Regions from separate parts of the Homo sapiens genome. Here region 2 is linked to region 1. The links come from fine-mapping of genetic effects on gene expression. A gene starts in region 1. The other region holds a variant in brackets. All regions are shown on one strand. Distances are from middle to middle. Region 1 holds the start of RASGEF1A (RasGEF domain family member 1A). Region 2 overlaps RASGEF1A (RasGEF domain family member 1A).

What was found.
Region 2: its variant is fine-mapped to the expression of RASGEF1A in blood mononuclear cells (TOPMed, PIP above 0.99).

Annotation. Positions count from the first base shown.
Region 1 is chr10:43,264,727-43,270,096 of GRCh38, reverse strand. It overlaps RASGEF1A (RasGEF domain family member 1A), which reads left to right and starts at 3,032. Exons shown (of 13, transcript NM_145313.4): 1 at 3,032-3,252. RefSeq lists an enhancer at 3,527-4,402.
Region 2 is chr10:43,218,966-43,224,335 of GRCh38, reverse strand. The region is part of intron 1 of RASGEF1A (RasGEF domain family member 1A); the gene reads left to right. Among named protein-coding and RNA genes, the nearest start is that of RASGEF1A, 45 kb to the left of the region's middle. The variant A/C (reference allele first, on the strand shown) is at 3,077.

The DNA of each region.
Region 1 (5,370 bases):
CTTTTTCAAGGGCATATGGGGCATTTATCAAAACAGAACATATTTTGGGCCATAAAGAATGTATCAACAGATTTCAGAAAATCTCTGCCTGATGTGTGATTAAATTGGAACTCAGCAGCAGGAGGGTAGCTAGAAAATCCCCTAATATTTGGAACTAAGCAATGTCCTTCCAAATAAGTCATGGGCCAAAAGAGAAGTCAAAATGGAAATTTAAAAGTCTCTTGAGCAAAATGATAGTGAGAAAAAAACACCAATTGTGAGAGAGAGAGTAAAGCAGTGCTTAACAAGCAGATATATAGCTTTAAGTCCATAGAGTAGGAACGAAAGCTGAAAACCAATGAACCTACCCTCCAACTTCAGAAACTAAAAAGGAAGAAGGAAGGAATGAGAGAAAGACAGTTAATACTCCCCCAAAGGAGAGCTACAAACACAATGAAACTAAGAGCAGAGATTCATGAAATAGAAAGTACAACAGAGAAAGCTGAACAAAGTCAAAAGTTGTTTCTTTAAAAAAAATTATAAAACTGACAAAACCCTAACAAGACTGATCAAAAAAAGAGAGTGAAAAACACAGAGGTCCCCAATATCAGAATCCAAGTGGGACATAGCTACAGATTCTACAAACATCTGCGGGATAATATAAAAGATGTTATAAACAACAATATGAGGATGTCAGAAAATCTGAAAATTTAGAGAAAATGGGCAAAATCCATAAAAAACACAATTTGCAAAAGTTACATAGGAAGAAGCAAATAATCTACATGGTCCTATATATTAAAGAAAATGAACCTGTCATTAAAAACCTTTCTACAGTGAAAATCCAGGTGCAGAGAGCTATTAATATTCTCACTGAATGGGTGTATTCTTATTGAAAATTCATGGAGCACAACTTTATGATTTTTGTCTATGCATGTTATACTTACAAAAAATTATCCTTGGGAGGCTGAGGCGGGAGGATTGCTTGAGCCCAGGAGTTCGAGGCTACAATGAGCTATGATTGTGCCACTGCACTCTAGCCTGGGGGACAGAATGAGACCCTGTCTCAAAAAAAAAAAAAAGCTATAAAAGTTTACTTAAAATGAGTAAACAAATAAATAATATGGGGAGTGGTAGGTGGGCATACAGATGAAACAGAATTGGCCATGTATTGATAATTGTTGAAGTTGGGCCATTGAGTTTATTGTATATACCTTTTTAGCCGTTACTATTATAAGCGTTTAAAATCTTACATAATAAAATATTGTTTGTAAAAAATAGTAAGATCATATTACTTTGTGCAAAACCCTCCACCTCCCTCTGAGTCAAAGCCACAGAGGGCTGATGGCTGGCCAGGCTCTTCGCGATATGGTCCACCTGGCAGCTCCTGCAGGCTCCTCTCTACCACACTCACTCATCTCCACTTGGCCTCCTTCTAAGGCATCCTCCACCTCAGGGCCTTTGCATGTACTGTTCTCTTTGCTGAAAATGTTCATTCCTCGGATTCAGCATAGCTTGCCTCAGTTAGGTCTTAGCTCAGATATGATCCTTTCAGCCAAGATTTCCCTGATCACCCAAAATAAAATCCCCAACCCAGCAGGGAAGGGTGGTGGTGAGAAACTACAGTTCTAGCTACTCAGGAGGCTGAGGCAGGAGGCTCACTAGAGTCAGGAAGTTCCAGGCTGTAGAGCATAGTGATTGCACCTGTGAATAGCCACTGCACTCCAGCCTGGGCCACACAGTGACACCTCCCCTTAAAAAATAAAAAAGAATCCCCCACCCTACAAGCTCCCCTCCCCCTCCCTTCGCTGGCTCCCTCTCCCTGCTGGGCCTCTCTGTGGGATCTGCAGCATCTGACACATGAACTATTTATGTGTATTTTTATTCACTGCCTACTTCCCACAAGAATGCAAACTCCAACCAGACAGAGACATTCACAGCCGAATCCCAGTGCCCCATCTTACACCTGGCATACAGGTGTTCAAGACACAAGGACTAAGTGAGTAAGCAAGGTCCTCAGCCTCTTCAAGGGGTGCTGTGGGGCTCCTCCCCATTTTTTCACACAGACCCCTCCACCTGGGGACATCGTCGCCCCAGACCTGTTTCTCACTGGCCCTCGTCTGACTGCCTGCAAGAGTCACTCTGGGCCACCCTGGGGTCAGGCCACAGGGTGTCCGTTCAAGAGAAGGTGACCCTTCAGAGCGACAGGAAGTTCCAGTGGACGCCAGAAGACCTGTGTCCTGCTTTAGTGGTTCTGAAATCTTTCAAGGTGGCTTTGGAGCCTTGCTCTGCCACTTATAGGCTCTGAGACCCTGCAGGGTAACCGCACTCCCTGTGCATCAGTTTACTAACCTGTCCAATGGGAACAAATCCACCACCGACCTTACAGGGCGATTAAGATGGTTAAGGGGAGTGACCCAAGGGGCCAGGACTTGCCCACAGAAGGGCTTTCACCGTCTGATTCCACTGACAAAAATTTTGCCAGCTCTGCGGGAGTCCCCAGAGGGCCTTTTAAATGCGGTGGCCGCATCGCCTCCTAGCTTGTCTGCTGCCTGATCCTTTTTTTTTTTTTTTTTTTTTTTTTTTTGAGACGGAGTCTCACTCTGTTACCCAGGCTGGAGTGCAGTGGCGCGATCTCGGCTCACTGCAAGCTCCACCTCCCGAGTTTACACCATTCTCCTCCCTCAGCCTCCCGAGTAGCTGGGACTACAGGCGCCCGCCACCACGCCCGGCTAATTTTTTTTTTTGTATTTTTAGTAGAGATGGGGTTTCACCGTGTTAGCCGGGATGGTCTCGATCTCCTGACCTCGTGATCCGCCCGTCTCGGCCTCCCAAAGTGCTGGGATTACAGGCGTGATGCCTTATCCTTTTTAAATGAAAGCCTGGCCGCCCTCTCCCGGCGCCCGCCCTGTCCCAGTGCCCTCTGCTCGAGCCCCGTCCCGCGCCCTACCTCCCCCTGCACCTTTGCCCCGCACCCTCCTCCCTCCGCGTCCCGCGCCCGCCCGCTCCCCCGCTCCCCGCGCTCTCGCGCCCGCTCCGTGCCCGCTCGGCGCTCGCTCCGCGCTCGCTCGTTCGCTCGCTCGCTCGCGCTCCCCGGCGCCGGCTGCGGAGGGAGCTGCTCTGCCCGCAGCTGGCGCAGCGCGGGGGCGGCCGCGGGTGGGCGGGTGCCGCGGGCCCGGGCGCCGAGCATGAGCCGCCGCCGGCGCCGGCCGCGCGCTGCTCGGGGCCCGACTGCGGCGCGAGGGCGGCGCGGGAGCGACGCTGGCCCGGACCGAGGTAGGCAGCGGCCGCGGACCCTCAGTGCCTCGGGGCCCCCGCCCGCGCCTGGGGCCGTGCCCTCCGGTCGCCGGCGCGGGCAGGGCGCGGCGTGCGCGGGCCCGGGGTCCCTCCCGGCGCGGCCGTCGTGGGGCCGGGGCGCGGGCTCCGGGCGCGGGGCGGGGGACGCGCGCGGGGAGGGCGGCCGGGATCCCGGCGCGCGGAGTTGCTGAGAACTCCGCCCCGGGCTGGACGGCGCCAGGACCCCCTGCACCCTCCGCCCCTTCAGGGCACCTGGCGGGCCGGGCCGGGCCGGGCCGGGCGTGGCAGGAGCGCACGCGGCGGGCGGGCGTGGGCACTGCGGGCAGGTTCGCTGCCCGGGGCCTGGCGTGGGGGTGGGGGCTGGGGAATCGGAGGAGCTCAGGGCTGCGCAGTTGGAAGTTTCCATTTGCTCTTCTGCATTCTGGGCCCCGCCGTGGTATCTCACGCCCTTGCTGTTTGGCGAGGAATTGGGGCTTGAGCTCTGCATTTGGGGGAGAGGTCCAGGGCCATGCCAGGTGTCTCCCTCTCCCTGCTGGGCAAGGGTCATTTGAAGGACCACGCTCTCTTTGCCCCAGGCCTTGCCGGCCCCAGGAACGGGGCAGGTGCAGCTGGTTCTGGTCCGAGGGTCGGTGAGTGAGAGGTGGGGGCGGGAGTCCCCTGCTGTGTGTGGAGGGACGCGCTGGCAGGTTCCTGTGCCCTGCATTTCTGGCTGCCTCTGGGTGCTGGACCTGGTGGATATTTACAGAGAGGCCGCTGCCTGCCTCTTGGGAGCCACCTGGGGGCAGAGACCTGGTGGTGGCCGGGGCTCCCTCCCTCCCTGCTCAGAGCAGTGAGCTTCTCCCTGGTTCACCCTCCCCACCACTGCCACTCTTCTCCCACTGTCCTGCGCAGGAAGGGCCCCGATGGCCGTCGGCCGCAGGATCCTGAAACACAGGAGTCAGGCTGGGTGCAGGGGAGCCTCCCAGAGGCCTTGGTTCCCTCTGTCCCCCCAGGGTTCTCCCGCCCCCTCCGGATGCAGTCTTGCCAGCCCAGCCTGTCCACCTCGGTGCCCTGGACTCTAAGCGGCTCTAGGGGGCCTCCAGCCGAAAGGCTACAGGTCTTGATTCGTGAACCACGGGCAGGCTGCAGGCTTCTGAGACTCAGTTTCCCCATCTGTAGACTGACACGGTTTTGATGACCTCTGAGGACATTTCCACCCTGATGTCCAGTGACACTTTGCTTTGGAACCTCAGGACCCCAGCCCAGGAAGGGGAGATCCGGAGCAGGGGGACATGGAGGACCTTGGCTGGATGGCCAGGGACACGTGGGTGGGTTCTCTGCCCCTCCAGCCAGTGTGTGTCCTTAGGGCTGTGGGTGGTAGTGACCCAGCGAGGCGGGTGCAGCAGGCCCACACTCCCTGCTCCTGAGAAGGGCATGAGCTGTGTGGATCCCCCAGGCTCTCTAGTGAAGTAGAGAAGCTGTGTCCTCCTGCACATGCCCCTGGGTTTGTGAACCAAGCAGGTATCCCAGGTGTGCCTTGGCCTGAAGGCCAGCCAGTGAGTTTGTTTTTCTCTGGGAGGCATCTTCGAGCTGCCAGCCGGATGGCTCCCTTCCACCTGGCAAATCGTGGAAATGGAACAGTTCACACAGAGCAGAGGGGTTTTTTGGTGTAACTTAGCAACTGCAGGCAGGGGAGGAGGAGGAGGAGGGAGAAATGGCATTTGTGCTGGACAGTGGCTGCGGTGGGGAGAGCCACGCACACAGTGGCCCCCAGCGGTGGGAGGGGCCAGCCAGGGAGGAGAGCGAGTGGGCACTGGGACACAGTGTGGCCAGGAGCCCCTGAGCACGCCGGTCCCCACCTGTAGAATGATGCCAGGGGCAGGATGGGACAGCTTTGGTTGGCCTTTGGTTTTTGGCAATAGAACCGTGGGTTTCACAGAAGCCCTATTTGTCAAATAGGTCAAGTGAAGGTGCTGTGCCAAGGCAGGGATGGGGGCAGGGGGTTTGGCCCCCCCACTGTCCTCAGGAGAGGGGCTGGTGGAGGGATGCTCTTCTCTGCATGGCCCACCCCAGGGGAGGGGCGCTGGGCTGCTGGGGGTAGGTGCCAGGGGCATAGCA
Region 2 (5,370 bases), 46 kb after region 1:
TCAGAGGTAAGAATTTATGCATACTTTTCTACTAGGAGACATATTTGTCACATTTATAAATCATGCTATTTTAGCTTTATAAAATGAATAGGAAGGCTTTTCAATATGAATTGTGTAGTTGAAATAGTTTATATATCATATAAAATTATCTTATCCTCAAAGGCTTGAAATAATTCATTTTAGAAACTATTTCAGCCAGGGCTTTCTTTTATTTTTTCCAGAGGCTTAGTTGGCTCTCAACTTAATTTGTACTATGGTTATTGGTCTTTTTGGGTTCTAAACAGTTTTACTCTATTTTTGGTTACTTATATTTTCTAGATAATATAAGTAACCATTAAAAGTTCTTGCAGATCATTTACCACAGATTTAGGTAGTTGTTTGTTTTAAACTTTCTTCTACATATCTGGAGTTAGATTCCCTTTTTTCATGCCCAATGTATTTTTCATGTCCTTCCTTTCTTCCTTCTTCTCTCCCTCCCTTTCTTTTTTAAAATAAATTTTTATAATTTTTTTAAAGAAATAGAGACAGGTTCTCACTAGAGCCCCCCAAAGTGCTGGGATTACAGGCATGATCCAGGGTGCCTGGCCCTCCCTCCCTTTCTTCTTTCCTTTTGTTGATTAGAATTGCAAGAGGGTTATCCTTGAAATCTGTGTTTTCAAAGAATCAGCTCTTGAAGTTTATAAGGAGTTCTACTCTATTCTTTGATTAAGTCATCTAATTTGCTTTTTAGTAGTTTCTTCTTCCAGTTTGTTTCACTGTTTTGTTGAGAAGCTCTTTTTTAAGCTTTTTGAATCAAGTGCTTAGTGTTTACTTCAATACATTATTGAAGTCTATGAACTTTTCTGTGAGTACAGCTTTGGCCATATCAAATTCGATACAGAGTTTTCCTATAAAGGTTATTTTTCTGACATCTGTAATTGGAATTTGAATCTTTAACACAGGTGTGATTTAGGGATTTTTTTTATGAAGTGGGTATTTTGTTTATCAGTTATATATTAATATCCAACTATAGTACATTGTGCTTATGTCATTCTCTCACCTGCACACTTCTATTTGGGGACTTTACTGGGTTTCATTGGTGGTATAACATACGACCATGTGGCAGAGACTCTGGACAGTAGAATGTGCCTTTCTGTTTCTAGACACAGTTTTTCACATATCTTGGTCCCCTGTCCAGAGAGCATGCACTGCAATATTTTCATCCCTTGGGCATCTACCACTTGCTGGGCAATTTCTGGTTGTGAATCTAGCATGAAGAGGTGCTCACTGTGTTTCCTGGGCATAGCTTTGTGTTCTTGGGAGTTTACCTCTAATAGGGTTATAAAAAAAAAACCAATAAAGTGTTTTTCTTACTCTCCACTCTCAGCCATTTAGCACAACATTCTAATACCAGATTCTCTAACATTAAGACAGCAGCTGGGTGCCCTGTAATTCAATTTGGACAATATTGGAGGCGAAGTCAGATCTCACAGGTTGAGAGCTTGGTCCCACAAGGCTGTCCCCCTCCCTCGACTTCAGATGCCATTTGCAAGTCTCAGGTTGTGGCCTGTGCTTCTGACCCACCCAGCAAATCACCACTCCTGGGACTCCTTTCTCAGATTCAATTAATTTGCTAGAGCAGCTCACATAATTCAGGGAAGCACTTGCTTCCATTTACCCACTTACTATGCAGGTTTTTACAGTGGTCACAGATGAACAGTAAGAGGAAGGGATGCTCAGGGCAAGGCATGTGAGAAGGGGCGTGGAGCTTCCCTGTCCTCCCAGGCACTGCACTCCAGGGCCCTCCACCTGCTTGCCTACGCAGAAGCTCTGAAGCCGCTCCTTTTGGGATTTTGTGGAGGCTTCATTATGTGGGTGTGACTGACTGAATCATTGGCCATTGGTGATGGACCCAACCTTCAGCCTCTCTCTTGTCCCTAGAGCTGGGGGTGGGAGTGAAAGTCCCCACCCTTTCATCACATGGTTGGTTCCCCTGACAACCAGCCCCCAGCCAGGCTGTCCAGAAGTCCATCAGCACACAGAAGACACTTACCACTTTGGAGATTCTGAGAGTGTTAGGAGGGTGTGCTGGGAAAAAAGACAGCGTCATGCACCACATAGTGGTCCCCTGAGATTCATAATATGATATTGTCACTGTGCTTTTTCTATGTTTAGCTGTAGAAATCCTTACCGTTGTGTTACAGTTGCCTCCAGTATATTCAGTGCAGTCACACACTGTGCAGGTTGGGATCCCGGGAGCAATAGGCTGTACCACGGAGCCTGGGTGTGTAGTGGGCTGTGCCATCCTGGTCTGTGTAAGTCACTCTGGGGTTTGCACAACGACGAAATCGCCTAAGATGCATTTCTCAGGAGGTATCCCCGTCGCGAATGGACGCATGACTGTATGTGCCCGGGCCACACGGACAGGAAGGGCCAACTTGCAGGCAGGAGGCCTGGGCGGCTTCCAGCTGTGCCCTGTCCTCAGCCCCACACCTGTATCTCATCTGGGAAGTGGAGAGCAGGGCCTCAGAGGCCCCCAGATGGTGTCACAGGGCCCAGCAGGTGGGAGGCCCTCTGCCTACGCCACTCATTGGTGGTGAGGCTTGTGGGCAGTTTTGCAGGGGCTAGAATGCAGCACGGGCCCCTTGGACCCTGGCCTGATTTCCCCCACCCCACCTCGCTGCCCTGCGCTTGCAGCCTAACCTGCAAATGCAGCAGGGGCAGCTCCTCCTGGGTCAGGCCCTGTCCATCCCACAGGCCTGGCTGGCTCCCCCTGCTGTCACCTCACACCATTCTCCTTCTCCGGAGCCCTGTGCTGGTTGCCCTGGGTAGCACATCAGACAGGGTTCCAATCCCAGCTCCACCAGTTTCCCAGACTGGCGCTGGTGACTGAGGCCCTTTGGGCCTCTGTTCCTTCATCTGGAGAAGGGGGGAGCAGCAGGAGGGCCACCCTGGGGAGGCATGGAGACGGCTGTGTCTGGCTTAGGTTCGAATCAGCCTGGTGGCACTAACTGATGTGGGGAGGTTTCAGGATGACTCAGCAGCCAATTAAATGCTTACAAATTCATGGTTTATTGGGACGTTTTCACACCCCAAC[A/C]ATCATGCAAATATATTCCACACACCCAGGCAGTCATAAGAGAGGCGGGAGCGAACCACAGTGTCGGGGGATGGGGAGACCAGCTGCTGATTGCCCAGGGTCCAAGTTCCTTCAGAGCAGAGGGACCGCAGACCCCCGGGTGGAGGGATGGGATCACTCCTCTTCTCCCAGCAGGGCGTCTGGTGGCCTCCAATGGAAAAGAGGCTTCGGAGTTCTCGAGGGCAGTGCTTCTGCAGGTGTCTTGGTCATGAGCAGCTTCTTTGTATTTATGGCCCTCCGCAGGAGTGTCCCTGGCCATCATCTTCAGGTGCCTTTTGACATCACTTTCTTGTTGGGTCTCAGGGATGCCTGGCCACAGCAGATATCATCTGATCATTGCAGTCCACCACACCTATGCTAATCACTCTGAGGGCTCAGCAACTTCACTCTAAGCTGAGTTACTTGTCATAAGTACTCCCCCCCCTTTTTTTTTTTTAAGACAGAGTCTTGTTCTGTCACACAGGCTGGAGTGCAGTGGCGTGATCTCAGCTCACTGCAACGTCCACCTCCCAGGTTCAAGCAATTCTCATGCCTCAGCCTCTGGAGTAGCTGAGATTACAGGTGTGCACCACCGTGCCTGGCTAATTTTTTGTACTTTTAATAGAGATGGGGTTTCACCATGTTGGTCGGGCTGGTCTTGAACTCCTGACCTCAAGTGATCTGCCTGCCTTGGCCTCCCATCGTGTTGAGATTACAGGAGTGAGCCACCACACCCGGTGAGATAGGGTCTTGCTCTGTTGCCCAGGCTCTGTCACCCAGGGATGCAGTGGTATGATCTTGGCACACTGCATCCTTTACCTCCTGGGCTCAAGCAATCCCCCTACCTCAGCCTCCTGAGTAGCTGGGATTACAGGTGTATGCCACTGCCCCTGGCTAATTTTTCTGTAGAGACAGGGATCTCCCTATGTTGCCCAGGCTGGTCTTGAACTCCTGGGCTCAAGCGATCCTCCACCTCGGCTTCCTAAAGTGCCAGGATTACAGGTGTGAGCCATTGTGCCTGGCCGTTTATTTTGAGACCCTAAGGACCACAACACATTATTACACATTCCTGTGCACTGGTACTCTTGGGGCTGGTCAGTGTCTAACCACCGGTTACCAGCCCCCAGGGCCAGGGGACAGACGCACAGCATGTGACAGAAGAGCTGCCTGTGTCCACGGCATGGGGGTGGCAGTCAGGACGTGTGTCTGGGTGCTGTTTCCCAGAGGCTGCCAGACTGAGCATGCCCATGGCTCTGTGACCCAGCAGGGGGCTGGGTGCCCCCTTCCCCTACCCCCATGACTGGCCCAGAGAGAGCTCCCTGCTCCCACAGCCATCTGCCAGGAGGACAATTCAAGTGAGGGAAATGGATTTTTATTTGTTTTGGAACACAAAGGAAAAATCTTTGCTCAGCGTAATTAGTTATCATTTAAAAGTAAAAGAACCATATGTCTTTTATTCCATATCCCAGCACCCTAGGTGGCTGTAGAGGGCGGAGGTGCAGCTCACCCGGGACAGGTCTGTGTGTGGCCTACGCGGCTGGCCATCCCTTCCTGCCTCTGGAGGCCCTCAGCCCTGACCCTGCCCGCTCACTGTCCCTCTCTCTTGGTCATGGGCTGCTGCTTCGGGGCTGACTCCAGGGCTGGCTGGATGTGGGCAGTGTGCCCGGGTGGGCCTGGGCAGGACAGATTGCTGGTGCCTTCCTACTGGAGCCAGCAGGCGCCCTGGCCACTGCCCAGAACTGATGAGCAGCAGGACACCCTGCTCTGTCCTGTCATCATCAGTGGACAACCCATCTAGGACAGGGACCCCAGAGGGGTGATTTCACTTGGGGTGGAATCTGCACACTGCTTCCCAGCCCCCTCCTCCGTGGCACCCTAGGGGTCTCCCTGGAAAGGACAGAACTGGCTACCAAGGTTGCGTGAGTTTGCACATGACCCCATCCAAGCCTGTGCCCAGCTCTGTCCCTGGGAGGCACAGGGCTGCCCACCCATCTACAGGAGGCTCTCGTTACCCCTGCAGAATCTGATGGCGTTGGCCGAAGAGGGAGCGAGGCCAAGGGGAGGGGGGAGCAGGGCTCCCCAGGCGGCTGGAGTGGGAGGCCAGGCTGCCAGCGCCTGCCGGGAAAGGGCAGGGATTCTCTGAAGTCCCACCTGCTGCATCCTTGGGCCTCTTGAGTCTCAAGAATGGAATGGTTCTTGGTGGACAATGATGTTCTATGCCCTGAGCAGGCCCAGAAGAAGCTGACTGGACAGAAAGGGAAAAGGGAGAGGCAGAA